Linked DNA regions of Homo sapiens: all the other regions are reported to be linked to region 5. The links are microRNA targets in miRTarBase. Many come from high-throughput screens and were not tested one by one. Region 5 holds a microRNA gene; each other region holds the end of a gene's coding sequence.

Region 1 (4,483 bases), not on the chromosome of region 5:
ATAGCTTGGCCAGGCTGCTGGAACCCATGTTCCAGTGGCATCTGGAGTTCACTGTATTTTCTTTTTTCTTTCTTTTTTTTTTTTTGAGACAGAGTCTTGCTCTGTCACCCAGGCTGGAGTGCAATGATGTGATCTCAGCTTACTGCAACCTCTGCCTCCCAGGCTCAAGAGATTCTTCTGCCTCAGCCTCCTGAGGAGCTGGGATTACAGACACGTGCTACCATGCCCGCCTAATTTTTGTATTTTTAGTACAGACAGGGTTTCACCATGTTGGCCAGGCTGGTCTGGAACTCCTGACCTCAAATGATCTGCCTGCCTCAGCCTTTCAAAGTGCTGGGATTACAGGCATGAGCTACTGGGCCTGGCCAGTTCACTGTATTTTCGAACAATTTCCAACAGAAAGCACAGCAGTGACGTTTCCTTACTGGTCACTGCTCCCGTGCTGTGAGGCCTGGAGCTGATCAAGGAAGCTTACACATTTCCCGGCCTGAGCAGATGAACTCTAGGGTTGCTAATCTGGGGACGTGGGTTCCTTCAAGCTCTTTGTGATGAGAAGGATTTTCATCCTCCTTTTCTCACTGCCGATCGTGCGGTAGAGAGAGCATCTTCATTTGAATGAGAGCTTCAGTTTCTGCTTGAGCCTCAAGCCCTATTTCTGAGCGCTGCTCCTCTCACACACGTCTCCAATCTGCAGTAATGCTCAAAGAAACAGTCTAGAGCTGGGTGCCAAGCTCCGGCAGCAAGAATAAGCCCTACCTAGTTATGTATGATCAGGAGATCTTCCAAAGGACGTAGGCGAGAGGAAAAAGCTTATTTTACCACCATGCAGACAACCCATCTAAAATATAACCCAGGAAATTATAGCTTCACAATATTCTGGATAGTATCAAATAGATAAATCCTTCAACCAAAAGCAAATACGGTTCCCTTGAGGAAAAACAGATGTGAATGTTGTGGTCTATTGGCAATAAATAAAACAGTACCATCGGTGCTATAAAAACAGACAATCAGCGTGACATTTAATGGAGTTAGTTATTATTGCTTCTATTTAGTATCATCACAGATTACTTATCGCTGCCATGAAGTCCATAAAATGTGTGACTACCTGATTCCTGGGCATCTAGGACAGGGTCTTTTAACCTGTCAAGTCAGTTTCATTATGGCCAATTTTCTAGCAGTGGTTGGGGATGGGGAGAGGAGAGCTTTGATTTTTTTGTGTGTAGAAGAACTTTCCATAAGCCTGTTTGGCTCATGGACATATTTTACAATGTAACCTCCCTCAGTCACTCAGAGGGGATCAAGAAGGGCCCCCTAAAACCAGGAGGACAGATCTAGTTGGGCAGCAAAATCTGGCTATTTCTAGAAATGCTCCCTCTCCCTGCAACTGAGCAGTTGTCCCCTACAAGCCACTAAAGCCCCCAATCTTTACCTGTGAACCCATCTCCTGACTCTGTGGAATGCCTGCAGAGGCATGGTAGGGAACAACCGTTCAGATGTTGATGAGCCATGCTAGGCACGTCTGTGTAAATCATGGCCATGCATTGGGATGAAGAAACTTTACTTTGGAATCTGTTTAATGTAGACTCTTTTTTTTTTTGAGATGGAGTGGAGTGCAGTGGCGTGATTTCAGCTCACTGTAACCTCCACCTTGCAAGTTGCAGCGATTCTCATGCCTCAGCCTCCCGAGTAGCTGGGACTACAGGCATGTGCCACCACACCTGGCTAATTTTTGTATTATTAGTAGAGATGGGGTTTCACTGTGTTGGCCAGGCTGGTCTTGAACTCCTGACCTCAGGTGATCCACCTGCCACAGCCTCCCAAAGTGCTGGGATTACAGGCTTGAGCCAGTGCACCCGGCCGACTCTCTACCAGAAACTTTTCTTCCAATATGAAGGAAGCATGGAGTGTAGGCTACAGTCACTTAATGATCCTTCCAAGTTCAGAGTCATGATAATTCAGGCAGCTCAGCTCCACAGGAAGGCCCAGAACCACACAGCCCAGGCAGTGACTGAATTCTTCCTAGTCACCAGTGGAGGGCTGCCTGCCTGTGAGGGACCTCTTATTTTGTGTACAGAATTTATGTTAGACAGGGTCCTGCTTCCTAAAGAGCAGCAGGGATGTTGTCCTGAACAGATGCAAGATTGCCACAGAAAAGATGAGGGGTCATGGGGTTGGGGAGGACGGAGGCATCCTCGGGAAAGGTTCTGCTTTGCCAGTCTGGCTAGAATCACCTGAGACATGAGGATGCTCTCCCACTTTCTACTTGACACTCAGCCTACCGTCTTGCTCTGCCACTACAAGACCTGGGTCATCCTCTCTGGGCCAATGTTCTCATTCATAGAACCAGGGATAATACATCTACTTCAGAGTTGTGAGGAGGTTTAAGTAAGAAAATATGTGTGAGAGCCCCTGCTTTTATAGTAGGCACTCAATAAATGTTGAATGAATGAAAAATCATCTCAAATCACAAACTATAGGATACTGGGTTAAACAAAGTGGCTGCTGGGGCCAAAGCTAGACCCCCATATCCAAGGAGAGAGGATCTGTCTCCTCTATCTCTAGGCTTGAGCAAACAGCCTGGAGAGCTGGCAATGCCTCCTCCTGGGTCTGACCATCTGCCTCTGTGGGATGTAGGAACTCAGCCTAAGTGCGATGACACCAATGATGATACTGAGGGGAAATGACCGAAGGGACATTCTCTGGGTTCTATGATGGAGTAGGGAGGCTTCGTGGAGGAGATGAGGCTCGGTCTTGCATTATACCTTCGCCCTGGCCCCCGCCTCCAGATGCTGCTCAGTAGTTTTAATTTCTGGACTCTCTAAAGGAGAGAGGGTTAAGGAAATAAAGGAATCTCAAATTAGGCAGTTTGCTAATGCTACTAACTGAGCAGAGATTGGAATAATAGAAAACTATTGACTACAATAGTTTAAATTTCTCCATATTCCCCTAGAAAATGGAAAGCTGGGCAGGAACATGTTCCAAAGGCTAAATCTTGGCGGAGATGATGACTCTAATGAAGGGAGAGGTATAATTCTTGGTAGACAGTGTAAATAACTAATATTAAGCTTTGGCTAAGCCTAGGAATGCCTGGTTCTTAAGACTTCACTGAAGAAGGGAAGAAGGAAGAAAGCATGGATCTGCTCTGGGATGCCCTGAACTCCATTCACATAGGCAGGGTAGGCATGGAGCAGGGAGACGGAATCCAATGCCTTGCCATTAATTTAACTTAGATGAACTACTCCTGGTCCCTGGAGCCACTCCCCAGGAAGGATCCTGTGAAGACACATCTGGCTCTCGTGCCCATGCTCCTGCCACTCTGCCCAACCAACGAAGTTAGCAAATAGTAAAGTGTTCATCATTACCTAGTTTTGTATTATAAAATGGAATCAGGAACATAAATAGGAACAAGTAGCAAAACCCCAGCCCTGCGTAGGACCATTATCCTCTCAGCCACCTCTGCGTAGGCCAATGAGTTTGGAAAGTTTCTCACAGTTTTCAAGTTTCAGCGACTCTGCTTTCTGTTTCAATCGTTCATCTCTGTATAATCCTGCCAAATTTGTCAGCTCTGACTCTGAAAGATAAAAGAGGTAACCAATTCATCAAGAGCTGAACTCCTTTGTTTCATTTCAATGTTTCTGGAGTCAAAGCTCCTTTTACTTCATTTCAAGCTTTTTCTTACAATTAAATATAAGAAACATTTAGTCATTTATTCACAAAACACGTCTTAGGTACTAGACCAGGTGTGGAGGATTAAAGGGCACCTGTGACCCTGCAGTCCAACAGTATCTGTGCTCTCTTATAAAAGCACTGGACTTAGTTCTTACCAAGAAAACATTTGGCACCAGACTTAGGAAACCTGCGCATGTGCAGTGAGACCACCCTATAGCCTCCTACAAACGGGATTCCAACAGCAGCTGGGAGAGAATGGAGTCCAGTGGCCTATTCCTGTCATCTGAAACAGACAGCTGCTTTATTCTTCTCCTGCATTGCTGCATCATAACTCACATGTGCGAAGGCACACAGAGCCTACTGCTGCCGGGTGTGCGTCCACAGAAGGCCAGGGCACTACTGGCGCTGTTCATTCCCTCACCACACGTAGGGTCCCCAACTCAAAGGCCAAAGGCAGCTGGGCCTTTCTAAAAGTTGAATCATCTGGATCCGGTGACCTTTGTCTCCTTGACTAAATTAATTTCATTTTCTCTTTATGGTGGAGAAGGTCATTCTATTTTTAACCAGAATATAATCTCTGCTGTGTTTCCTGACTCAACAGTGGTTTGGTTGCCTCTATTTTTTATTCTTTTGTGAGGTTTCAGACATATTCAGGGAGGAATGCCTGAAGAGCACCTTTAGAGACGTATTGCGTATTAACAGGATGGCATGCTTGGATGTGGTGTGTGTTTCCTGAAAGCCTCCAACAGCAGGCAGCTACTCAATGTTTAAAGGACCAGACTTGTAAAAATGCTATTTTAATTGTTTTGAAATA
Region 2 (4,483 bases), not on the chromosome of region 5:
ATCACAGCACTTTGGGAGGCCGAGGTGGGTGGATCACTTGAGGTCAGGAGTTCAAGACCAGCCTGGCCAACATGGTGAAACCCAGTCTCTACTAAAAATACAAAAACTAGTCAGGCATGGCGGTGCGTGCCTGTAATCCCAGCTACTTGGGAGGCTGAGGCAGGAGAATCACTTGAACCCAGGAGGCAGAGGTTGCAGTGAGCTGAGATCGCACCACTGCACTCCAGCCTGAGCCACAGAGGGAGACTCCATCTCAAAAAAAAAGAAGAACTATAAATAGCTAAAGGTGACTTCATCATCACTACCACCCTCACCCTCAAAAACAAAAACAAACTGAAAGTTTGATCTCCTTCAACTGAGTACCCAAAACGACTGAGTGGGTGAAGACAGGCTATTTAACCTATGGTCTCTGAGATCTTTTTTTGGAATTCTAAGACAGTGCACTTGGAAGAGTCTGCGGCCTGGGTCTGATTATTGGCACAAATGTGCCCTCTGCTGGCAGAATCAGAGCAATGGCACTTTCCTTCTCTGAAGTCTAATTCTCACCTACCTCCAACGCCCTCCCTTCTTTAGTAGTCTCAATTCAGCTTTATTCTTCCCTCTCCCATCCCACCTTCCCCTCCAGCCCTCCAGCCATTGCTTTCTCTTCATTTACTTCCCAGAGACTGTTTAATATGGTTGCTTCCTCTAAGGAGCGAGGAAATGTTGATAGCAAAGGGCTCAGAGGGCCTTTCCAACTTCTCTGAGTTCTGTGAACTGAAGCCTTACCTAGAAAGTATGAGGCAAGGGAGGGAAAGGGGAGAACTTGGATGAAGACTGTGGGGAGAGGGAACCAAGAAGAGTGATGGAGGTGGCTAAATCAAAGCAGGACAGAATTTGTATAAAAGAGCAAAAGACCTGGGAACAAAGGGCAAAAGGATGAAAAATGGGAGGGCAGGAAAAGAGACAGATCAGAAATCAGATCAGGGGAATGGGTTAAAGAAGATTAAGGAGAGATCAGGATTTAGGAATAAAACTAGAAGATAACAGCAACAGAAGGTATGGGGCATAAATTTATTCTTGTGCACAAACCAAAGTATTGTGACTCACACCCAACAAGCAAAGGAAATTATCACTTTCCAGATTACACAGCAAACGTAGCTGGTGGTGGTCTTGGTGAGAAGGGAGTCCATACTAAGATTGGAGATCAGGACCTGAAGCTGAAAAGAAGCAATAGCTGGGGTTTTGAGGGATGGGGTGGGACTGAAAGGAGGTTTTGGCTCTGGGTATTTCCCTACTCTTTCCCAGGCAGTCATGGCAAGCTGCAGAAGACACACTGAAGAACAGACTCAAGGAAAATCACACAGACACCAACCGTTCTTTCAACACTCAGCACACACCCTCACACCTCCCTTCCACCATCATTCCCTTCCATTCTAACATTCTTCTCCCTCAAATTTTTTTCCAATCCCCCTCTCACACACGGTTGGTTTCTTGTTACTCAACTTTACCTTCTCCCAATATGGCATTGTCCCTCGCCACACTTCTGTCTGTGGCTCAATCACTTACACTCATTTCTGCCATGCTTCTGATTTTGGCCTCACTTGCCACACTCTGGCTCTCTTCTCCTTTCTCTCAAGCTCATGAGGCAATGAAGCCAATGATTTGTTCATTCTCGGAGGGAATTTTCTTTCTTTTTTTCATTTCCTGGGTACTGGGTTGCTCAGCACTGGCCTCTCAAGTTGCTAACTTTTTGAAATCCTGAGGTATAGAATTCTTTGTTCTATTCCTGGTCTAGCTGGTATAACTCAGCCCATGCAAACTGTCCTGGCCCTTCAGTCTTTTCATGCTCCATAACTTTCACAAGATGCTGTACACCTGCTACAGACATTGGTCTCTAAGGAGTTATTCTCTAGTGAATCTCTTTCTCCCACTCAACTCCATGTGGGGATATCTGACCCTTCTATCAGTACAACGATAAGACTCAGATTGGGTCTTTTGTTTGTTTGTTTGTTTTGAGACAGAGTCTCGCTCCGTCGCCCAGGCTGGAGTGCAGTGGCGCAATCTCAGCTCACTGCAAGCTCCGCCTTCCAGGTTCATGCCATTCTCCTGCCTCAGCCTCCCGAGTAGCTGGGACTACAGGCGCTCGCCACCACGCCCAGCTAATTTTTTGTATTTTTAGTGGAAATGGGGTTTCACCGTGTTAGCCAGGATGGTCTCGATCTCCTGACCTCGTGATCCGCCCGCCTCGGCCTCCCAAAGTGCTGGGATTACCGGCGTGAGCCACCGTGCCCGGCCTCAGATTGGGTCTTTATTTTGACCTCCCCTCTTATTCATGCCTTAGACGGAAGAGCACACACACACACACACACACACACACACACACACACACAGGCCTAGGTATATGCCAGTCAAGCTTGGGAAAGCAGAGTGGGGGGTGGGGGTGGCTTAGTGCAAACAGGGGTCAGTTCAGTCCCTTTGCTGTGTGCCTGGTGGTGAGCTTCTTGCCTGAAGTCCCAGTGGTCACTTCTGCTCTGTTTACTTCTCACTGAACATTAAAATGAGGCCCAGGGAGAAAAGCACAAATGTCAAGGAAGAGAGATCTGTGGAGGAATATGGGTGGAGAAGCCTGGAAATAAAGACAGAGATCCAGGAAAGGAAATGCAGAGACAAAGAGAGGCAAAGATACCAAAGCAGACATACTTGGTTGGAAAGCGGCAGGGAGGTAGAGAGTGAGGAGGAAGGTGGGGGAAGGGGACATCAACTTGGAAACCATCTCTGGCAGGAGGCAATTTAGCTTCCAGATGCGTGACAGGGGATGGGATAGGGTAGGAGAAGCAACTTTAGGAACTGGATGTTCCACCTCTCCTTGGTCCTGGGACCTGTGCCTGTTCACTGGTGCCCTGCCCCAGGCCTCCACACATGAGCTTGCAATCCTGTTCTGGTGGCTGAAAATCGGGGCCTGGCTACCTGGAAACCGCAGGAGCTGGGAGAAGCCCCAAGGCCCCTGGGAGCCTCTGGAGGAGGGGCTGGGCTAGGAACAGGGGCTGAGGCCAGTTCTGTTCTCCAGATGGGCTCATCCAGTGTAGTGGCTGCTCGGGGGGCAAGCACAGTGGGAGCCAGGGGTTCTGCAGTGGGCTGGGGTGCCGGAGTGGAAAACCGGCGAATCTCCTGGACTCGGGCAGTTTTGGGGGACCCTGAGGCGATAGGGCCAGGAGTCGGGGGAACCTCATCAAAACAGAACATGGCAGTTTTAAGTTGATAGGGCTGATGCCGCATAAAATCTAGAGCCTTGATGCCCTGCTTGGGTGTTGCCCGAGGCCCCTGGGATTGGGCCTTAGGGAGAGTTCGGGCCGCCTGGGGGAAAAAGGGAGAGAGCAGTGGGTTGTAAGCAATAGGAGGCGGGGCACGGATGTTGGGTGAATATTTCCAGGAAGGGGGCAGAGACGGGGTAGGAGAAGGACTTCTAGGCCGAGGGCCAAGACCAGGACCAGGTGTACCTTCCACCACATACCTGTCCGCACGGCTCTGCCGCTTAGCAAACAGCTCCCCACCCCTGCCCTGCAGCCTTGGTGGCTCAGGGATTCCAGCCGAAGAGGCTGCCCCATTCACGAGCCCATCAAGGAGCCCTCGAGATGGGGGCTTAGGAGCCACTGGGGGTGGAGTCTTAGGAGTCATAGGGGGCGGGGTCTTGGGAGCCATTGGAGGGGGGGTCTTAGGTGTCACGTGAGGCAGGGTCTTGTAACTCCTGGCCCCTACTGGCTGCATGAAGTTGCAGGCTTCAGCCCCGAGGCTCAGAGCATCTTCTTCAGGACCAGATTCTGCACCCCCGGCCCGAGGCTTTTCATCCAGGTTCTGTACCAGCGATAGCAGCTCGGGGTTGGGCGAGTTCTTCGTCTCCTCCTTTCCCGGCCGGAACATCTGCTTCCGGGTCCCCCGGCGCCGGGCCTCCTGCAGGATACCCGTGCGGGCAGCTGGCACAGAGATGCGCTGCTCGCGAGCGCTGGGGGGCTCAGGAGCCCCTGGGCCTGGGGCAGGCGCCTCTGGGCGCGCAGAGGGTCGCAAAGGCGCAGATAGGAAGATAGAAGCGGTGGAGGTCATGGCAGCTGCGCTAGGAGGAGCGGGGGGCTCTGGAGCTCCACCTGGGGTGACAGGCCGACTAGGGGCTGGGATGTACAGGGAGCTGGTGGCTGTCACAGGGCCCGAGGAGCGTGGGGTGCTGGGGGAACCAGAGACTGGCGCGTGGCTGGGAACCCCTGAAGTGAAGCTGGGCAGAGGGGTGGGCCCCTGCGAAGACAAGAAGGGGGGTGGGGCGGGGCTGAGGCCCCCCAGGCTGTCGTTCGCCCTTTTGGGGGCTAAAGGCCGGAAAATAACCGAGGTGGTAGTTGGCCGCTGCCCTTGTAGGCCCGGGGTAAAGGGCCTGGCTGACCGGTTAAAGATGCTTGGAGCTGGGGTCGGGGCTCCACCACCTGGTTGGAAGGGTCTGGGGCTGGCTACAGGCGCC
Region 3 (4,195 bases), not on the chromosome of region 5:
AGTATTTTAATAGGAATTGCATTGAATCTGTAGATTGCTTTGGGCAGTATGATCATTTTCATGATATTGATTCTTCCACTGATTCATCCCATACTCATCAATCCATGAATATGGGATGTATTTCCATTTGTTTCTGTCATCTATGATTTCTTTCAGCAGTGTTTTGTAGTTCTCCTTATAGAGATCTTTCACCTCCTTGGTTAAGTACATTCCCAGGTATTTTATGTTATTTTTTGCAGCTGTTGTAAAAGGGGTTAATTTGATTCTCAGCCTGGTTGCTGCTGGCATGTAGCAGTGCTACTAATTTGTGTGCATTGATTTTGTAACCTGAGACTTTCCTGAACTCATATGTCAAATCTAGGAGTCTTTTGGAGGCGTCTTTAGGGTTTTCTAGGTATTTGATCCTATCATGGGCAAACAGACACACCGTGACTTCCTCTTTTTCGATTTGGATGCCCTTTCTTTCTTTCTCTTGCCTGATTGCTCTGGCTAGGACTTCCCTTGTCCATAGTTTCTGCCTCAGCAGAAAGAGGATCAGGAGGCCGGCCGTGCCCAGCACAATAGGGCGATTATGAGGCTCGGGGGACGCCCCGAGTGTGCAGAAGGCGGAGCTGGCTGCAGCCCAGGCTCCTGAGTGTGGAGAAGCGGAGGAGGCTGTGGCCCTGACTCAGGGGCCAGGACCCTCCTGCCTCCCCAGCAGCTTCCCAAACCCCGAAGTGGTTAGAGCGGGGCCTGGCCACCGGCTGCCGGGCCGCACGGGCAGGAGGGGCCGGGAAGGTCTTCCCCTTTGACCCTCACTGCTTTTCTCCCCAGGAAACCTGTGGTATCGCCAAGGGATCACGCCCAGCTACCCGCAGGGCTCCAGCTGGGAGCACGTGTCCAACAACGTGTGCCGAGTGTCCGTGGGGCCCCTGGACCAGGTGGGGGTGCTCAGGGGGTATCGGGCACTTGGGGTGCTCTGGTTCCCTCTCTGGTCTCCCCCATCCCATGCCCAGCCGTCCCACTGCAGGTAGGGCTGAGGGCTTCATGGGGTCTGTGCTCCAGGTCTGGGTGATCGCCAACAAAGTGCAGGGCAGCCACAGCCTGAGCCGGGGGACAGTGTGTCATCGCACCGGCGTGCAGCCTCACGAGCCCAAGGGCCACGGCTGGGACTACGGCATCGGGGTGAGCGGGGCCCGCGGCCTTGGGCTGTGTTATCACCTTGTGCCTGCACTGGGTGCTGAAGACGGGACGACCACTGTGGGACTGTCCCCTGGGACCCGGTGTCTGGGTTGCAGGGAGGCCCCCAGGCAGATCCCCTCCAGGATCCTCGAGTCCCCGAGTCCCCTGGTGACACAGCTCTCTCCTTCCAGGGAGGCTGGGACCATATCTCTGTCCGGGCCAATGCCACCAGGGCCCCCCGGAGCTCGTCCCAGGAGCAGGAGCCGAGTGCCCCACCAGAGGCCCATGGCCCCGTCTGCTGCTGAGGCCCCCCCACACACCTACATGCAGGGACGGTGCCCAGTTTGGGGGATCAAGGCTGAGCCATTCTTGTGCTGGAGTGTGCACCGTGGGAGCAATGTGGCCCAGGTGGACTCAGGAGGGAACCTGGCCCCAAGGCTGCGGCCACTTCAGAGGCACTGGCTGAGACGGCCCTGAAATGTGAAGCTCCGCGGACACTCCCACACGTGTCCCCGTCTGCGAGGAGTCCCGGGGTGTGGGGCATGGGGTGGGGCTGCACCTCCCAGAGGCCCCTCCCACCCTTCCCTTCCCCTCTCCCTTCTGCCTTTCCAGGACTAGAACCGGGAACCTGGAGCCCTCCGGGAACGCCGGCCCTGGGGCAGCAGAGCCAGGATGGAGCCCTCCTGAGCTGGCATCTCAGACAGCACCCGGGCCCGCCACCCCTCACCAAGAGAGATGGCCATGGGGCTCAGGGCCTCTTTACCATGTGCAGTGACCATTTCTCAGAGCAGGACTTGCAAAGAGGCTTTAATTTCAAAAGTGAAGGAAGGAGGCCAGGCGCCGTGGCTCACGCCTGTAATCCCAGCACTTTGGGAGGCTGAGGTGGGCAGATCACCTAGGTCAAGAGTTTCAAACCAGACGGGCCAACATGGTGAAACCCCATCTCTGCTAAAAATACAAAAAAAAAAAAATTAGCTGGGCATGGTGGTGGGTGCCTGTAATCCCAGCTACTCGGGAGGCTGAGGCAGGAGAATCGTTTGAACCCGGGAGGCGGAGGCTGCAGTGAGCCGAGATCATGCCACTGCACTCCAGCCTGGGCGACAGAGACTCCATCTCAAAAAAAAAAAAAAAAAAAAGTGAAGGAAGGAGACAGCAGATTGGAAATAACACTGGAGTGGATGGGATGTCCTCTTCCCTGAGGGGGCCGGGGTACCAGACGGGAGGCTGGGAGAGGATGAGAGGCTGCCCCATGGCTGGAGGCAGTGTCCGTGTGTGCAGTCACCATCATCAACCCCCATTCGGCCCCTTCCCCAGATGCGCTGGTGACAGGGGCTTCTTGGATGTCAAATCATGTTGTAGGAGGGTGCAGACTGCGGGCTTCTGTGGGGAGCAGTACTACTGTGTCTGTCGGCAGTGGCCATGGGACCCTCAGCCCGTCCTGTACATGGAGCAGGGTGCACAGTCACCCTCCATCCTGTGGCGAGAGGCTGGCCCGGCCCGGCCAGGCGAGGCAGAAGGTGTCGGCCAAGTGGCCCCGACCCCATCCCGCAGTCTCTCAGCTGCTTTTTATTACCTCTGTGCCCCATTTGGGAGTTTGCTTCCTCCACCTGGACACTTTGCCCGGGAGGTCATCAGAGCCCAACCCCAGGCTCTGCTCGGTTGGAGAGGGGATGACTTCACCACCACCTGACCTTCCTAGGGTCCTGGTCTCACTGTCAGCTGGGGGTCCGTTGTGTGTATTTGTACAGTTTTGCTGTATGGGGTTTGTCACCCAAAAGCTGATGCTGAGAAAGGCCTCCCTGGGGCCCCTCCCGCGGGCATCTGAGAGACCTGGTGTTCCAGTGTTTCTGGAAATGGGTCCCAGTGCCGCCGGCTGTGAAGCTCTCAGATCAATCACGGGAAGGGCCTGGCGGTGGTGGCCACCTGGAACCACCCTGTCCTGTCTGTTTACATTTCACTATCAGGTTTTCTCTGGGCATTACGATTTGTTCCCCTACAACAGTGACCTGTGCATTCTGCTGTGGCCTGCTGTGTCTGCAGGTGGCTCTCAGCGAGGTACGGGGAGGGCGTCACCCTGCAGAACGGCAGAGTGACGCGTCCTCTCGCTGCTGAGCACCAGCTGTTTACCTGCCCTGCATCACTTCCTCGGATACTTTACTCAATAAGCATTTCCCCTGGAGTGTCCGTGCCCTGGTGTTTTTTATCGATACGTTGATTAAAACGCGTGGTTCCCCGTGTGCCTGAAGCAGACATTGCTGTGAAATCTTTTATTTTTGTTTTATGACACAGCATCAATTTCATGAATACTTTGAAAGGGCCATTAGAAAAAATAAGAGCCAATTTGGGTCATTTGAGAAACATTTTCAGCACAATTACAGTGGGGGCACGGGCCGTTCGGCTCCAGCTGGGTTTTCCCAGATGCAACAATCGCGGTTCTGGCTTCTCCACTGGTGGGGATGGGGATCGCGCCTTCGGAGCTCTCAGGGCGCCTGTCTGTCGGGGGCTGGGTGCGTCCACAGCCCCGGGGGATGGCGCGTGGCGTAGCCCAGGAACGGCATGTGGGTGGGTCTCTGACCTGCTTGTGCAGGGACTTGAGGGACCTCATCCCGATGGCCGAGGCAGGGGCTCCCCACGGGATAAAAGGATCCGGCCTGGCCTTGGGGTCCAAGAGGAGGGCCAAGGGAGTGGACCTGGCCCCTGTCCCCTCTCCTCCTCGAAACACTGGACACCCTGAAGCGAGACTATGGCTGCTGAGGATCCTGTGTGATGTGGCCGCGGGGCGTCCCCTCTGGCCTCAGGGGAAGAAGGACTGGGCGGCTCGGCCCAGGTCACCCTCTAGGAAGCAGAGGAGGTGCAGGTGCCAGTTCAGGGCAGAAAGAAAGAGCCACTGAGGCCATTGTCCTGAAGGCGGTGACCCCCAGGCACTCCTGCTGCCCCCCAGGAAGCCCTGGGCTGCGCTGGACACCGGGCCGAGTCTCCGTCTTCTGGACCGAGGCTCTTCTGGGCTTTCAGGCTCAGCTCGTCGGTCCATTCA
Region 4 (4,483 bases), not on the chromosome of region 5:
CTATACCTTGGTCATAGCAGCACTTCCAATTAGCAAGTTAATCTCTTCTATTGTAAATAAAGTAAATCCATAGATTTACTTTACTGCCATCTAGCTGTGCAGAGGTAGGATAAAAATCTATGGATTTCTCTTTTTATTATAGGTATAGACTTACTTTATCTATAATAGAAAGAGATTAAATATCAAATTTAAATTTCTAATTGTTCTTTGATAATTAGTATTTATATTCAGTGAATAAATGGTGATAGATAGATTGGTATGAATTGGTTACTAGCGTTAACTCCTATATACACAGTAATTTTGCTGAGTATCATTAATAGTATAACAGTAGCTTTTTCACTAGCAAACTAACAGACTAGTGTTATGTTGATTACATAGTACGATTTAAAGTTCATAAAGTACAAGTCCTTCTTAATATTACAATTTAAAAACTAGATTAGATAGATATATTCTGAGTCTAATCAGAAGAATGAGCCTGTTTGTTGTTGTTGTTGTTTTCATGTAACTTCTGCTTCTAATAGGGACTTGTGATTTTGAACACTCACTGATGAATTTCAGTTTAGTTTGAATTCCAAAAGTGAAGGTGGAGGAAAAGTAGCTTGATTTTTGAGTGAAAAGAGGATAAATTTGGATAGCACCAAATTTAATGGTGAGAATTATCACTCTTTTAATTAAATGCGGTGTGCTTGGCTTTTTTATTTTAACTTCCAAATTAAGGAAGTAATCTTTAAAGTTCTTACTAGTTCTGACAGTCTGCACATTTTCTTTGGGTTTTATAGTAGTAAACTTTCTACTGAGGATAGTGCATTTTGTACATAATTCTTCTACTCATCATTACTTCTCTCACTATTCATAATAAATTCATGTATTTTCTCCTTATAGGCAGGAATAATATATTTTTAACTGTTTTTCTTCTACTGGAAACCTCTGGACCCAATTAGCTTCTATTGATAGTGATTCTTCCATTAATATCTTTGACAGAGAAAATCCATGGTGTATAATTCTTATTTCCAGAGCTTGGGTTGTCTTAGAAAGTAGCTTCTTGGGATTATGTTTGATAATAATTGCTGTGATGATCATGATTAACCAGAACATCTGAGGTCAACTCATCAGTATAAAGCCTTTCTGTAAATGCTTTACAGAAGCATTGGACAGCGATTAGATTGAGGAAAAGATCAGATATGGTTGAGTTTTGTCTTCTTTGGAGTCCTTATTATTAGTACCTGAGTGCTTCACTGCCATCTAGCTGTGTGGAGGTGGAAGAAAACTGCATCTGATCCCATGGCAGGAAACTATGTGTTTGTGGAGATGAAAGAGAAGAGAAACTATAACTTGATGAAATGTTTATTGCCAATTTTTATGAAGTACAATTTTCTGGATCCTATATCCAGAAGGCCATGACAATAAATTTAAATATAATTGTACAGAATTCCAGTAGTGACACAAAAAGATGCAAATATTCTGAATATTCATGTGGGAAACTATGACAACATTCTTTGTTCAGGATGGGATGTGTTATAATGTTTCTAGAGACGTTTTGGCTCCTAAACCACGTCATTTAGCTCCTTGGATAGGTTTGTCAATAATTAATTAAAACAAAATCTGGAAAATCCAAATTTTGAAATTCGGAAATTTTTTTAAAACCTAATTTTATTCCCAACCACACAAATCTCTCTTTATTATATAGTTCTGAATATAGCCCCAAATGGTGTTTATCTTTTTCTTCCATTCACTATTTTCTTTCTTTCTTTTTTTCAAGGTGGAGTCTTGCTCAGTCACCCAGGCTGGAGTGCAGTGGTGCGATCTCGGCTCACTGCAACCTCTGCCTCCCGGGTTCAACCAATTCTCCTGCCTCAGCCTCCTGAGTAGCTAGGATTACAGGTGCCCGCTACTGCACCCAGCTAATTTTTGTATTTTTAGTAGAGACGGGATTTCACTATGTTGGCCAGGCTGGTCTCGAACTCCTGACTTCGTGATCCACCCATCTTGGCCTCCCAAAGTGCTGGGATTACAGGCGTGAGCCACCGCGCCCGGCCTCATTCACTATTTTCTAACCAAGGAGTTCAATGAATGTGGAGCCTTACAAAAACACCTGGCACCAAACAAAAGTAATATAGTACAGAACTATAGTTAAAATGAAAGAACAGACATATACCCTTACTACCAAAAGAGGAGATCATGTTAAATACCTTAATTTCATGTATGTGTCTCATTTCTTCTCTGGGTTAGTTCTTATCTTGGGCTAGTTTATGTTGGCTTCTTATTCAAAGTAATAACTCCTTTGTTCTTGGACATATTCATAGAGTGGGGTGTTGCTATCTAAGCAGAAGGAACCAGAGCCTGTTCTTTCCTTTGTATGGTAACCGCTGGCCTCAGAGCCTCTTTGTTTTTTGCCCACATCCTCACCGTATATTCTGATACCTCCTGACAGACTTGACTCTGACTCTTGCCTTTGTCTCCCCCACTGCATATGGTTGCACTGCTTGATGAATATCTATACCTATACTCTTCAATTCCTGCAGGGTCTTGGCTGTCAAGAAAGTGACTGAAAATGTATCTTTGACTTTTGCTGTCATTTGACTACTCATAACTATCATTTGATTGGCCATGGCTGTATACTTGTCTTTCATTGGTACTGAATCCAGACTGACCCTAGGCATCTCTTGATGGCCCATGACTTAATACCTATCTGGCAAAACCTGTGCTGGATCTTACCTGCCCATGAAAAGTTGTATCTCCGAAATGTTGCTGGCTAGATCCATGTATACCTATTGTATTGAACTCTAACTTCCCATGCCTAGATCCTAATTGCTCATGAGTGTCTTTCTCCCAATCTTCTGAATGCTTTTTGTTATCAGTATGGGATTCCTGTTTTCTGATTGAACTAGATTTTGAATGGCCATGAACTGATATGGATTGTCCATGGCCAAATCCAAGGTGGTCATTTGACTGGCTATGTGTACATCCCTCCCTTCTGGCTGTGTTATATCCAGGTTGAACATAGGTGTTGTTTGACTGTTTATGAGTTACTATAGAATGTCCATGACTAGATTCCTGACTTCTTATAATAATAGGTCGAGACTGATACTGAGAATCAACTGAATGTTCATAACTTACCATTGACTGTTCATGATTTAAACTGTGTCTTCCTGTTCTTTTAGTTGCTTTGGATACTATAAGGTCAGAACTAGAAAATAACTGTCAATGTCTAGACAGTTGCTTGTTTGCAGTGCTGTCTGTTGACCATGAAAGGTGAGAATTACTGATGCTTTTTCTGCTGCCACCAGAAGGCCCATACCCAGTGTGCCCATAGTCATATTCTGCAGGTCCATAGCTGCCATGTTTCCAAACCTGACTTGATCCATGCCTTTGCCTTTCACTACTATGTGACTGAAAATGACTTGCTCTACTAGATCTGGAACCTGTCTGTGTGGATTGTCCATAACCAGAATGGCCATGTCTAGTGGTATCTCCTGTCTGTCCATGAGTAGTTTCCAGTCTCCCATGAACTGTGGATCCTGGCTGTCTTTGTTGAGATCCAGCTTGGCCCTGAATGTGTCCTGAATGTGTGTGTGAGCCCCATGAGTGCACTTCACTGTCACTGGACTCACTGTGGCCAGATCCCCTTCTTCCAGTTGTCCTGGACCCTCTCTGTGTGGATTGTCCATAACCATAGTGGGCATGTCTAGTGGTATCTCCTGTCTGTCCATGAGTAGTTCCCTGTCTCCCATGACCTGAGGATCCTGACTGTCCATGTCGAGATCCGGCTTGGCTGTGAGTGTGTCCTGAATGTGTGGGTGAGGCCTCTGAGTGCACTTCACTATCACTGGACTCACTGTGACTAGATCTTTGTCTTCCAGTTGTCCTGGAACCTGTCTGTGTGGACTGTCCATGACCAGACTGGCCATGTCTAGTGGTATCTCCTGTCTGTCCATGTATAGTTCCCTGTCTCCCGTGAATGGCAGATCCTGACTCTCCATGTTGAGATCTGGCTTGGCCATAAGTGTGTCCTGAATGTGTGTGTGAGACCCCTGAGTGCACTTCACTGTCACTGGACTCACTGTGGCCAGATCCCCTTCTTCCAGCTGTCCTTGACCCTCTCTGTGTGGACTGTCCATGACCAGAGTGAGCATGTCTAGTGGTATCTCCTGTCTGTCCATGAGTAGTTCCGTGTCTCTCATGAACTGAGGATCCTGACTCTCCATGTTGAGATCCGGCTTGGCCATGAGCGTGTCCTGAATGTGTGTGTGAGACCCCTGAGTGCCCTTCACTGTCACTGTACTCACTGTGGCCAGATGCCCTTCTTCCAGTTGTCCTGGACCCTCTCTGTGTGGACTGTCCATGACCAGAGTGGCCATGTCTAGTGGTATCTGCTGTTTGTCCATGAGTAGTTCCGTGTCTCTCATGAACTGAGGATCCTGACTCTGGATAGTGAGATCCAGCTTGACCGTGAGTGTGTCCTGAATGTGTGTGTGAGACCCCT
Region 5 (4,483 bases):
TACTAGAACATTAAAAATCTGCAGAATGAGAAATTATTTTGTGAATGTTTAAAATATTCAAAAGTGGATCCTGACACTAACCACTTTTAATTTATTTTACTAGCGATATATTATTGGATGACTTTTTTTTTTTAAAAAAAGAAAACCTTCTGCTTGTTTGTTTAAACTGCTTTGTAAATTGACAGTTTAACCACCTCTGCAGAAACAAAGTAGTAATAAAAGATGTTGGCCATTTTAGCAATGTTTAAAAATTGCTCACAAGACAGAAAATGATTGGCACTCAATATGTGTTTAGTGATTGATGCAATAATACCATAAAATTATTGTACTGCATAATAAAGTATTTCACTAATAATTTGCTAAAAAATTAGCCTGAGGCCTGCCACTCAGCACAGCACTAACTTTTCATGCTTGTGACAAGTTGTATATGAGCAGGATGGGTTCCAACCTTCCCAATTTCAGAAGAGTATTTTGCAAGAAGGAATTTGTATTGAGAGTCCAGAAAGAAAATTGCCTAAAAGTTTTTAAATCCTCATTTTTCTCAATAAAAAAGTGCCATATGAATCATAAATTAACAAATGCACACAAAAGGAGAAAATGAAAACAAACCATAATTTCTCTACTGAAAGATAACCATGGTTAACATTTGATGTTTTGGCCTCAGGCATGTATGCATTTTTTCACAGAAAGGGACTCATACTGTGTATATTGTTTTATAAACTGTTTTTTAATTCAATAACATATCTTGAATTTCCAAGTCTACCAGACTTTTCTACAGAATCAATTTAAATAATTATGGTCTATCATAAATATATTACTCTTCTCCTATAGCTGGACATTTAGGTTGTTTCCAATGTTTACCCTTATAAACAATGCCACTATGAGCAACCTTATAGGTAAATCTTTCTACAAATTTTTGACATTTTCCTGGAGATAGATTTCTGGGCCATAGAAATTGAGGTTGATTTGGGGTGGGGGGAGTTGGTAAGATTTACCTGTAAAGGTTGATTTGGGGGGTGGGGAGTTGGTAAGATTTACCTGTAATGCATTAACTTCCTCATCTCTTTTCATCTTCCATCTGTTCCTTCCCTTTTCTGTATTTTGCAGATTATTCAAAGCCAAAAGCCAACAGAGCCCCCATGGAGAAGTGGAGGATGCTCAGATACTGCTATGGAGCCCTGAGAAGTGAAATGGGTCCAAGCCCTTGCCCAGGATAGAGCGCTCCAAGCGCATCCTCCGGGGACCCTTTTAATCAGTGAATTGTTCACCTCTCACTGTTTCTTCCCAGCAGAGCTAAGAGACTTCTAGAGCCTCTTGTGGATGGTCAGCGATAGCCCTGGTATGACCAGGAGGTGGCGATTTCTGTTCTAGGTCCCTCAGCAAAGACTAAGCAGGACAAGCCTGGCTACTGTGTTAGGAGGAGCTGTAGGGAAAGGGAAGGACAAGATGGGCCACCACATGCCTGTGTCCACTGCTGGCCACACCCAGAGTGCTAGGGGTTTGTGGCAGTGACTGGGGCCACCTAGAGCAGTTCTAGGGTTCGTAGTCATTCTCTCTGAGTCATGGAAAACTGCCCAGGAGGCGAGTCCCACCTAAGAGAGTATGTGTAGCACTGGCACGGCCTGCTGCCTTGCAAATGACCACATTTCATGAAAGAAAGCCAGGGCCACAGACAGGAACCAAAGGAAATCAGTCACTTAGGGGAAGATAACGAATCCACAAAGTGAAAAAGGGAAAGAAAAAAAGAGGCAACTTCAACACTCCAACCCATGGGAGCAGAACGACTTTCAGCTTTCGCAGGGGGATAATCACTGCAAGTCCAGCTTGAAGAGGGTGATTTCAGGATCTACATGAGAATAAGGCGCAATTTTTTTTTTTTTTTTCTGAAAAATACGGAAGGGTTCATTTACAGCTGTTAAAGATGGGCCGGTTTTAGGGCTAAAGCAAGACTCTGGTCAGATGTTAACAACTCAGTTATCCTGGGGAAAAAATAACTGGCTCCCAACCCTTTCCCTTTTCAGCATTTGCAGGAAAAGAAGGAGTAGGTAAAATGCTTTATTTCCTCTCATTCTCCATGGTGGGCAGGAGTTCACATAACAATTATAAACCATCTTTAACAGGAAAGCCAAGTAAATCCTGTAGGGATTTATTTGGAGCTCCCTTTTTGCTAGAAAATGAGTATCATGAACTAAAAATGGACTCGTTTCCTCTCTCTCCATCTTCCTCTCTTTCTTCTCTCCCCTCATCTCCCACCCACCGCCATGGTGGAAAATGACTGTGGTCAAGAAGATTGAACATTTGAGCAAGACCAGATGCCTTTATATCCAATAGATGCCACGGAGAGTAGATCACAACACATCTAACTGCTGTATCCCCATATAAAATAATTTTAATTTTCCTAGACTGCAGAATTGATCACATTTACTGATGATGGATTGGGAAGTAGGTGAAGAGGTGAGAGTTGGAGAGTATCCATTCATTCGGCCAGATTATTCTCATTTATAATGTAGTCTTCCAATAAGTATTTATTTCCAGAAATCTATTCCCTCTAGAGATTCTTTCTCTCTCAGCCATTTTAGAAAATTGTTGCAAACAGAGTTCCTGTCCATTTTCACAGGAAGTTTTTGCAGAAGGGGTTTGCTGGGTGGCAGTGGAACACAGGCAGTGGACCCCTCTACTACTCTACTGTTCCAGAACACAGAAGCCTTTCATTGAGAGTGTTCAGCTCTTCCCATTGCTCAAGATGCTTGTACCCGTGATGCTTCTTTTCTCTGCTTAGGTCACAATATGTGGAGCTGACAAGGTTCCCCTATTATCAGTGACAATGGTGGAATGTGGAGGTGAAGTTAACACCTTCGTGGCTACAGAGTTTCCTTAGCAGAGCTGTGGAGTGTGACAATGGTGTTTGTGTCTAAACTATCAAACGCCATTATCACACTAAATAGCTACTGCTAGGCAATCCTTCCCTCGATAAATGTCTTGGCATCGTTTGCTTTGAGCAAGAAGGTTCATCTGATATCAGTCTTCTCAATCTTGTGTACTTACTGAATAAAGTCTGGCTCTTTTGCACTCATAACCAATATGGTTAGCTGAACCCTGCCTCTCACATGCTGTTGTTACATACCTTAGCTGGTGATTAATTTTCTTGTTTTCCCAAGTCAATAAAAAGATTGCAGACCAGGCACGGTGGCTCACGCCTGAAATCCCAGCACTTTGGGAGGCCAAGGCAGGCGGATCACTTGAGCTCAGGAGTTCAAGTCCAGCCTGGGCAGCATGGTGAAACCGTGTCTCTACAAAAACTACAAAAATTAGCCAGGCATGGTGGCATGTGCCTGTAATCTCAGCTACTTGAGAGGCTGAGGTGGGAGGATCAATTGAGCCCACGAGGTTGAGGCTGTAGTGAGCTGTGATGGTACCACTGCACTCCAGCCTGTGTGACAGAGCAAGATCCTGTCTCAAAAAATGAAAATAAAAAGATTGCAGAGTTCCTCAGAGCCCCCAACACAAGGCCAGGCACGAGGTAATCATTTAACCCATGCTTATAGACTTAAAATGAATAGTTAGGAAAGTGTTAGACGCAGAAGGCTAAGACTGGGCTAAATCTATGTTATGCAGACAGACCGCAAGCTTATAGGTACAAAATTAAGGTGTGTGGGTCCTTCTCTTTTCGTCGTTAAAAAATCCAACTTTCTAATAAACTTACACATGGTTTCACTGACGTTTCAGAAATTCTAGAATATGTTTGATTTCTACTGATTTCAATCAATTACTAGGCTGATTACTGAATTCGTACACTAGGCCTTTCTTCCTCTTGCATCAGTGAATTACCATCAGAAAATTGTTTATGAAGCATGTGTGAGCTGCCATAGCAAATCTGGGACCCATGCAGTTTCTAGGACAGTTGGCCCAGCCAGGTGCTCTGGTTTGGAACCCATTCTGTCTCTGAGAGGTGTCTAAAGTCAGGAGTAGGTTTCGTTTGTGCCAGACTAAAGCTTCCCTCCCCAGGCTTGGTTAAATGAAGTAGGACATGTTTAATCAAATAGACAGGGTTAGATCAACCATCAGAAACAAATTCAACCATTCAACCATTCACTTATGAAATAAATATGTGTAGAGACTACCGTGTGCCTGACACTGTCCTAGGCATTGAAGACACTTTTAAATTAAATGTGTCTGATGTTATTTCCAGAGATGGGCATTCACTGGCTCGCATTATATTTTGGGACCATTGTAATTGTTCCAAACGGGAGCCAAATGAGCAAAACTTTGCGAAATAATTCTGAGTCCCTTGCTGGAAAGCCTCACCTGAATGCAGCCCACACATTTATGATACACTACAAAGGCTTCAAGGTCATGAGATGCCTCTGTCCAAAGAAGAAGAAGAGCACCCCTGCCTGCCCTGCATCTCTTACCACCTCTCATTTCTTCCCTCCTGGCACCATCTACTGTCAAGAAGAGAATCAGACTCCCTGAAATAATTGAG
Region 6 (4,483 bases), not on the chromosome of region 5:
TTGAGCTCTAGGAGAGCAGGAGCCTTGTCTGTTTTGTTCTACAGTACCTTGTTTCAGAGTAAACATTTTTAAACAGTTATTGACTCAAAGAGTCTGCTTCTCCTTGGGGACTTGAGTGGTTTTCCTTCTTACAGTATTCTCATCTCTTTTTTTCCCCCCCAAGCACTGGAGAGGGGTCTCCTGAAAACCCTGCAGAAACTGGATGAATATCTGAATTCTCCTCTCCCTGATGAAATTGATGAAAATAGTATGGAGGACATAAAGTTTTCTACACGTAAATTTCTGGATGGCAATGAAATGACATTAGCTGATTGCAACCTGCTGCCCAAACTGCATATTGTCAAGGTAGGTCTGTAGGGGTTGATGTCGCATTGCCATTACCTTGTATTGTATTTACTAAAGTGGCATTTCCTTTGTGCTCAAAACATTTCTGATTTTATATGACTAGTTGTTTAACTCAATGCTGTTTAGGCAATAGTTGAAGCACCCTAGAGTTAGTTAAATGGAAAATTATGTCTTAAAATTGAGGAATATAAGAAAGATGAATATTTTTTTTTCTGTGACTGCATACAAATTCAAAGATATAATGCGTGACTTTGAATTGGAGTTTGCCACACTGACTTATGTTATCAAATTCTGTTCTGTGATCACACCTTGCTTTCTCTATTGAAGGCAAAAAGTATTGAGCATTTATTATATGAGACACTGGGCTGGGCACATTGTTAAATAGAATAATAATAAGCGCTAGTTGTAAATAAAGACCTAAGATAACAAAAACAGATCTAAAATAGCATATGTGTGTTGTGAAGTATTTTCCAGTGATTATACTTGGCTGTCTTTCTGGATGTCCAAGGCAGTTATTTGCAGTCACTGTCACACTTCTAAATCCCTGGTGTAGCTTGCAGTCTTGGTCATTATTTAAAACTCTGGTTAGAATGATGGTGATGGACTTTTTTTCATATAGAAGCAGTTCTCAAAGATTTAGAGCATTAATTATTTGCTCCAAAATCAGAGATATGTCTAGTTTACAAGACGTGGAAATAAGTCTGTTAACTTTTGATCTCTTTGTATTTCAGGTGGTGGCCAAAAAATATCGCAACTTTGATATTCCAAAAGAAATGACTGGCATCTGGAGATACCTAACTAATGCATACAGTAGGGACGAGTTCACCAATACCTGTCCCAGTGATAAGGAGGTTGAAATAGCATATAGTGATGTAGCCAAAAGACTCACCAAGTAAAATCGCGTTTGTAAAAGAGATGTCTTCATGTCTTCCCCTAAGAATACGCTTTTCCTAACAGGCTACTCCTTCCTGTAGAGCAGAAATTGTATTTTGCACGAACATGCAGTTATTGAAGATTAGGATCAAGGATAGACAAGGTATAGTAGTTATCTTAAAATATACACTCCTAAGCAGTATTATTTTAAAATCCTTTACCCTGGCTACCTCCCCTACCCGGGTTCCCCTCTCTTTAATTTGGAGACACTCCACCACAAACTTTTCACTTTAGAGGTAGCTTGCCATCTCTCAGGAGCCCTCACCATTGTGTCCATTCACTGTGTATAGATGGCAGAACTTTTGAGGTGCAATGTTTAATTGTTAAAAATAGTAGCCACGACTTTATCAGGCAGCCCCAAACTGGTGCATAATGCATGGTACAAGAAATATTTATGTATTTTTTGGAATTTTGTAATATTTAGTAAGAGTATATGAAAGGATTGCTACTGTATCAGAAATATTGTTTCAATTTAGTCTATCCTGGATATGTACTAACGAATATTACCACCAGAGAAGAGAGCTTTCTACAAAAGTCACTACAGATTTTGCTATATTGCTTTGTAGATAGATTTTTACTTTTGCCTAAAAGCATTTATCCTTCATACCAATTGTAACATCTGACACCATGTAGAAGCTAAAAGTTTAGAGGGAGTGAGGGTTTTCTCAAGACCTTCCTCAAGCATTTTATCTTTAGAAGAGAAACTGATGGGCACCTGATACTCTGTCTAAATACGTTTGTTATATGTGTTTTGCCCTGTGCCATTCATTTGGAACTTTATTGCATTCTTTATTTTAAAAAGCTTGTTTTTACGTAATCATAGAGCTTGCTATTTGTACATCTGTTGAGCAACACTACATAACTGATTTTTAGTTGACTTAGCTATAGCAGTACAATGATTAGTAATGTAAAAATTAACACAGAAATTAACCTAAGGAATGAAGGGTGGGTTTGTCAAAATATCAAGTAAATTTTTGTTTCTAAAGTACATTTAATGTAGATGACCTAAAGAATGCGTTATCCATCCTATATAAAAGAAAGATAAAACACAGGTCACCAATTTTCTCATTTCACCCCATTTACCTTGTATAGAGGATTGTTCATTCCTTTGGGACTAAGTTATAGTTATGGTGAGTGTGTATTTACTGTAGTTTTGCCTGATCTCACTCATTGCACTTCCTGGAGTTAAATTTTCCAACAGCCATGTTGAGGAATAGCACTCTGCATGTTTTTGTTTTGTTTTTCGGGGTTTTTTTTAATTGAAGCCCTAAACCAGGAATTATTTGTGTTCTAACAGGAGGATGAACTTGCTGAAAATAAAACTTTGCTATGTATTTACTCTTTTTTAAAAGACAAAAGCAAAACCAGACTTTCTACGTACTACTCCAAAGACTGTGATTGTGACTATAATACATTTTTGGTAATTTTTTTATACCTAATTTGTATAGGAAGTGCTATTTCTCATAGGCTGTTTCTTGAAATTTTAAGTTTATTGCTTTAAAATGGCAGTGTTTCTCCCACTTTGATATGCTAACATTTAGTAAGCACTGGCTTTATGAAAGCGGCTTTTTATAAGTATACTGCATTTTTTGAGCCTATCATTAATTAGCTTAGTATGAAAGATAAGAAAATCTCCATGTTGTATCCATTTGGCTCAGGAAGATTCTTTGCCTTACCTTTCTTAGAACTCTTTATTGCTTATCAAAAGTTTGAGTACCCGCTTGGTTTTTTTTTGGTAATTAAATATTGTATGATTTATCTGGTTCAAGGAAGATGCACTATTCAGTTATCTATTGAGAAATTATTTTGCAGTGGTTTTAGTGGGTGAAAATGTCCCATCTGCACCAGTACACAGGCAGGCATTATCATTCTTCACCTACTTTTTAAATAGTGGCAACTTGGGATTCATTCTGGTGATTCTGAACCTTGCCTCATAGCTTAAAGTATAAAAAAGATTCAAGAGCAGTGAGGTTTGTTCTTTCCAGTGAATGGTGGACTGAGTGGTGCGAGGTGGAGGGCTAACAAGAGGAAAGAACTACATTCTTCAGAATACAGTGATGAAAATTCATTTTGAAACTCAAATATTTTCATTTTGGATATTCTCCTGTTTTTATTAAACCAGTGATTACACCTGGCCATCCCTCTAAATGTTCTAGGAAGGCATGTCTATTGTGATTTTGATGAAGACAGAATTATTTTTCTCTGTAGAAACACAGATACCACTTTATCAGGGAAGTTAGTCAAATGAAATGGAAATTGGTAAATGGACAAAAGCTAGCTAGTAAAAAGGACGACCCAGCAACATGCTTTAACCCCATTGTATGTTTGTGGAAAGAGCATAGTTTAACATCTTGAGAAATTTGGGACATAAAGTTTTCATGGTAGACAGTTCATGCAGTATATGAATTGCCATAATGGAAATAATCTGATTTTATTTTTACAACTAACATCCATTCCCCTTCATTTAAACACCTTTTGTGTTTTACTTCAGTGAGGAGATTGGAGTCTGAATGGATCTGTTTTCCAAGAGATTCTGAGAAATTTTTGTATTCAGCAGTTGGAAAGCTCTCTATTCTAGTTGATAAAACTTCCCTTTTTTGATGTAGATGCAGATATTCTATACAGTTCTGTTGTCTTTTACTAGGACTGTAAACTTTTGTGATAAAATTCAAATAAGATTTTATTTCTTGGTAATTTTGGCTTTCACAATTTATCTTTAAATCCTTGAGCAATCTGTATACAATTAAGAGATTTCTGACATTTATTCTTACACTAAATGGATCAACTCTAGGATTTAGGCATGTTAACTTCTGTTGTGTTTTGAATCTCTCCAGAGTTGCATGTAGATAGCATTTATTTCTGTGCCCTTAAACCCATTTAGAAAATAACTACAAAGTAAAAATGTAGAGGAAATAGAAATGTATTTTTTCATGAACATTTTGATACAAATTTCATCATTTAATGATTCACCAATTTCTTGCATTAATTTGAATTTAAGCATTTAATTCAAAGAGAGGGGAGCATCCATTATTGATACATGTGGGCTTTTAAAAACTCCATCCTTTATAAATAGTCAAGGTTTGGGCCACACAAAGTATATTTTTATCATGGAAAAATTTCAACTCCTCAAGCCGTAATGTTGAACAGAATTGGAGTATTTTCTTTATAATTTCTTGAACAGGCAAATGAAAGCTTATTATAGAAT
Region 7 (3,000 bases), not on the chromosome of region 5:
GTTCAACTATAAATAGTATATATTCTATATACTTATCAAATTACATTATATATAATTCATTATCAAAGAACAGAGATTATAACCTGGATTGGAATTATATTTGAGGCAACTATATTCATGGAAAAATTTTGCAAACCCTTTTAAATGGAATAAAACCCTACCTTATCTCCAAGCCATTTCTAGTAGAATCAATGCTTAATACAGCTTTAAAAATAAGGTGGCTTCAACACATTGTACGTGTCTATCAATTTATACACAAATGTTTTTTGAAGTGCCTACGATGTGTCCAGCACAGTCCTAGGCACCATTAAGATTATAAAGGTTGACTGATCCCTGCTGTCATGGAACTTACAGTCTAAAGAGCCAGAGAACATCTAGAAAACATCTAAGTATTTGAGTGGTACAGACAAGAAGTTTGGAGAAGATGAGGGGAAAACAGGTGGAGTAGTTGCTGGAGTCTCCAAGAAAGCCTGGAAGAAAGAGGATTCCAGTTAGTTCCTGAATGTGTAGGGCCTAGCTTAGTAGAAAACAGGATGAGGCATTTGGGCAAGGCACACAGGCAGAAGTCGGTATGCAGTAAAAGAAAACAATGGCCTCTTCAGGGAGCATTATGTACACAGAATTGTATCGAGCTAACAAGTTGGAAATGCAGGTTGTAGTCAACTATAGAGGATACTAAAACTCAGCTGAATAGTTTTTTTTGTAGGCATTTGAAAGCCACTACAGACACTTGGGCAGGGGAAATGGTGTGATGCCAATAGATCAAACAATATGTGCAGAATGGACTGCAGGAGAAAGGTGAGGGAAGGAATTAGATACTGTGGCAGTAATCCTGACACGAGAGGATGATGACAGCAATTAAGGAGCTGACAAAGAAATACAACCACAGGACTTAGCCAGAAGAGTTTGCCTCTCCCACATGTTAAGAATTTAAAATATGTACAGTACTTTTAATTCAAATGATCATATTAGTTTATTAAAAGAAAAAATATCCAAAATAAGCTATAAAATAATCTATTTAAACATCTGCTGTTTTTCAGTGATTGTTTTGTTAATGTGGAAGCAACATTTTCTATGATTAATCTGCTGTTACCTGTTTTGACTGAGCTACTACAAAAAGAAAAATCACTGAATTGCTATGGGTTTCTGAAATATCCAAAAAATTAACCTGAAGCAGGGGGAAAAATGACATCACACCATTAGCAGGTATTGTGTGAAACTTCTAAAAATGAAACTGACATTTATCTGACTTATTAGGAATAAATACTCTCTAATGAACTCTCTAATGATCCTCTCACCCTTTCTGGAAAGTGAGAGGCACGCTGGGCTGTATGTTCTCCCCCATGATTCTGATTAACAGGATGCTCTATTATTATAACCTCCCTCCCTGGTTGTATCCATGTCTTATTAATTTTTTTTTTTTTAGAGATGGGGGTCTCGCTGTGTTGGCCAGTCTGGTCTCAAACTCCTTGCCTCAAGTGATCTTCCCAATGTGCTGGGATTACAGGCATGAGCCACCATGCCCAGCCTATGTCTTAAATGCACTGTATTTCCTTGTACTCCAGATCCCTATTAGTGAAATGCCTATTAAAACATTTCGTAAGGCCAGCATGGCAGTGTGCATCAGTAGTCCCATCTATTTGGGAGGATGGCTTGAGGCCAGGAGTTAGAGAGAGTAGTGTGTTATAATCATGCCTGTGAATAACCACTGCATTCCAGCCTAGGCAATATAACAAGACCCCATCTTTAAAAACAAACAAACAAACAAACGAACGAACAAACAGAAGTCTTGTAGTGCTTCCAGCAAATCAGCAGAAAGGAAAAAAGAGCTCTAGAGTAAGAACAGTTGATTCTTTTTTTAACAATTAGTGATGGGGGAGTATTCAGATGGCCAGCTAAAGAGAGAAGTTCTAGAACTCAGCTAGACCAGTATATTGCTTTATTTAAATTGGCTCAATATCCTATCTAAAGCTAGACCAGTGGTTTTCAAAGCATGGAGCCTGGACTGCATCAGCTGAGAATGTGTTAGAAATGCAAATTTTTGGGTCCCACCTGAGGTCTACTGTATCAAACTCTGGGGGTGGGCCTAGCAGCCTTGGGTTTTAACAAGCCTTCCAAGTGATTCTGATGTAAGCTAAATTTGGAAGCCCCTGAGATACACTTACTGGAAAGAAGCTGGACCCAGGCCCACAGTGTACTTGATGTTCCTGTGGTTGGTTCAGTTTTCAAATTTGTCTGCACATTGGAATCACCTGGAGAGCTTCAAAACTACCAATGCCTGTGACCCGTCACCAAAGATTGTGATTTAATAGGCCTGGGATATGGCCTGAGCTTTGGAATTTTTAAAGGATTCTCAAGTGATCCTAATTTGCAGACAAGTTTGGAAACCCTTGGATGAATCAAAATACATCTTGAATCAAGGACCAGAGACAGCCAAAAACAAAAGAAAAGAAAACACACATATTAGTCAAATTCCATTCAAAGAAGTTTCCTGGCTATTTCAGAGTACTGGAATGTTGTCACAATAACATTGCTTTACTTAAATTGGCTCAACAACCTATCTAAAGAAATCTTTATTCTTGTAAACTACATTTTCTGAAATAAATTCCTGCATTATTTTGTTTGGAGGAAATCTGTAATTTTGGAATCAATAAGGGTTTGTGTCACTCTTTTCATTAAATATTCATCTATGCCATTTAATTGTCCAAAAATGGCATCAGGAATGTCTACACAAGTGGAAAGGAACTGTCTAAGTTTCTGTACACTTGATATGGCTTCTGTGATGGTGACTTTTGGTTGCTCTGGTAAAGATACCTCCCCTTCATCTTCACTTCCTGCTTCACTGGTATTTTCGCCAGCCACCATGTCCTGGATGATGTCTGTGTCCTGAGAGATAATGAGATCATCATCTGCAGTAACAAAGTCCTGGAAATTTACTTCATTTGGGACACAGGTGGCAATAGCCACTGTGTGCCACAACTTTTCAATGGCAATGTCTGG

What was found. The annotated mature microRNA hsa-miR-122-5p reads UGGAGUGUGACAAUGGUGUUUG and lies in region 5 at 2,887-2,908, shown strand. An mRNA with a match to its seed (bases 2 to 7 or 8) in the 3' UTR can be bound and repressed. Matches are read on the target gene's strand: a 7mer-m8 pairs with bases 2 to 8, a 7mer-A1 pairs with bases 2 to 7 and ends in A, and an 8mer does both.
Region 1: the mRNA of DNAJC18 is a reported target of hsa-miR-122-5p. Seed matches in the 3' UTR shown: 8mer at 1,901-1,908, 7mer-A1 at 1,607-1,613, 7mer-A1 at 1,602-1,608 and 7mer-A1 at 115-121.
Region 2: the mRNA of SYNPO2L is a reported target of hsa-miR-122-5p. Seed matches in the 3' UTR shown: 7mer-A1 at 2,026-2,032.
Region 3: miRTarBase lists TECPR1 as a target of hsa-miR-122-5p. Seed matches in the 3' UTR shown: 7mer-m8 at 1,656-1,662 and 7mer-A1 at 2,246-2,252.
Region 4: the mRNA of FLG2 is a reported target of hsa-miR-122-5p. Seed matches in the 3' UTR shown: 7mer-A1 at 1,786-1,792.
Region 6: miRTarBase lists CLIC4 as a target of hsa-miR-122-5p. Seed matches in the 3' UTR shown: 7mer-m8 at 1,405-1,411 and 8mer at 1,485-1,492.
Region 7: the mRNA of TIGD6 is a reported target of hsa-miR-122-5p. The part of its 3' UTR that is shown has no 7-base or 8-base seed match.

The regions. Positions count from the first base shown.
Region 1 is chr5:139,410,702-139,415,184 of GRCh38, forward strand. It overlaps DNAJC18 (DnaJ heat shock protein family (Hsp40) member C18), which reads right to left. Exons shown (of 8, transcript NM_152686.4): 8 at 1-3,571. The coding sequence ends at 3,447. Among named protein-coding and RNA genes, the nearest start is that of SPATA24, 8.9 kb to the left of the region's middle.
Region 2 is chr10:73,643,847-73,648,329 of GRCh38, forward strand. It overlaps SYNPO2L (synaptopodin 2 like), which reads right to left. Exons shown (of 4, transcript NM_001114133.3): 4 at 1,040-4,483. The coding sequence ends at 2,872. Among named protein-coding and RNA genes, the nearest start is that of MYOZ1, 4.6 kb to the left of the region's middle. RefSeq lists enhancers at 252-301, 3,865-4,483.
Region 3 is chr7:98,214,661-98,218,855 of GRCh38, reverse strand. TECPR1 (tectonin beta-propeller repeat containing 1) reads left to right here. Exons shown (of 26, transcript NM_015395.3): 24 at 814-920; 25 at 1,045-1,164; 26 at 1,353-4,195. The coding sequence ends at 1,466. BHLHA15 (basic helix-loop-helix family member a15) reads right to left here. Exons shown (of 2, transcript NM_177455.4): 2 at 3,399-4,195. Among named protein-coding and RNA genes, the nearest start is that of BHLHA15, 5.3 kb to the right of the region's middle. RefSeq lists an enhancer at 511-570.
Region 4 is chr1:152,347,409-152,351,891 of GRCh38, forward strand. FLG2 (filaggrin 2) reads right to left here. Exons shown (of 3, transcript NM_001014342.3): 3 at 1,327-4,483. The coding sequence ends at 3,202. All of the region lies in intron 7 of CCDST (cervical cancer associated DHX9 suppressive transcript), which reads left to right. Among named protein-coding and RNA genes, the nearest start is that of FLG2, 10 kb to the right of the region's middle.
Region 5 is chr18:58,448,202-58,452,684 of GRCh38, forward strand. It overlaps MIR122 (microRNA 122), which reads left to right and starts at 2,873; the gene lies at 2,873-2,957. It overlaps MIR122HG (MIR122 host gene), which reads left to right. Exons shown (of 3, transcript NR_170245.1): 2 at 1,108-1,339; 3 at 2,618-3,080. MIR3591 (microRNA 3591) reads right to left here and starts at 2,951; the gene lies at 2,879-2,951.
Region 6 is chr1:24,839,697-24,844,179 of GRCh38, forward strand. It overlaps CLIC4 (chloride intracellular channel 4), which reads left to right. Exons shown (of 6, transcript NM_013943.3): 5 at 164-345; 6 at 1,077-4,483. The coding sequence ends at 1,241. Among named protein-coding and RNA genes, the nearest start is that of MIR6731, 77 kb to the right of the region's middle.
Region 7 is chr5:149,992,170-149,995,169 of GRCh38, forward strand. TIGD6 (tigger transposable element derived 6) reads right to left here. Exons shown (of 2, transcript NM_030953.4): 2 at 949-3,000. The coding sequence ends at 2,614. Among named protein-coding and RNA genes, the nearest start is that of TIGD6, 7.0 kb to the right of the region's middle.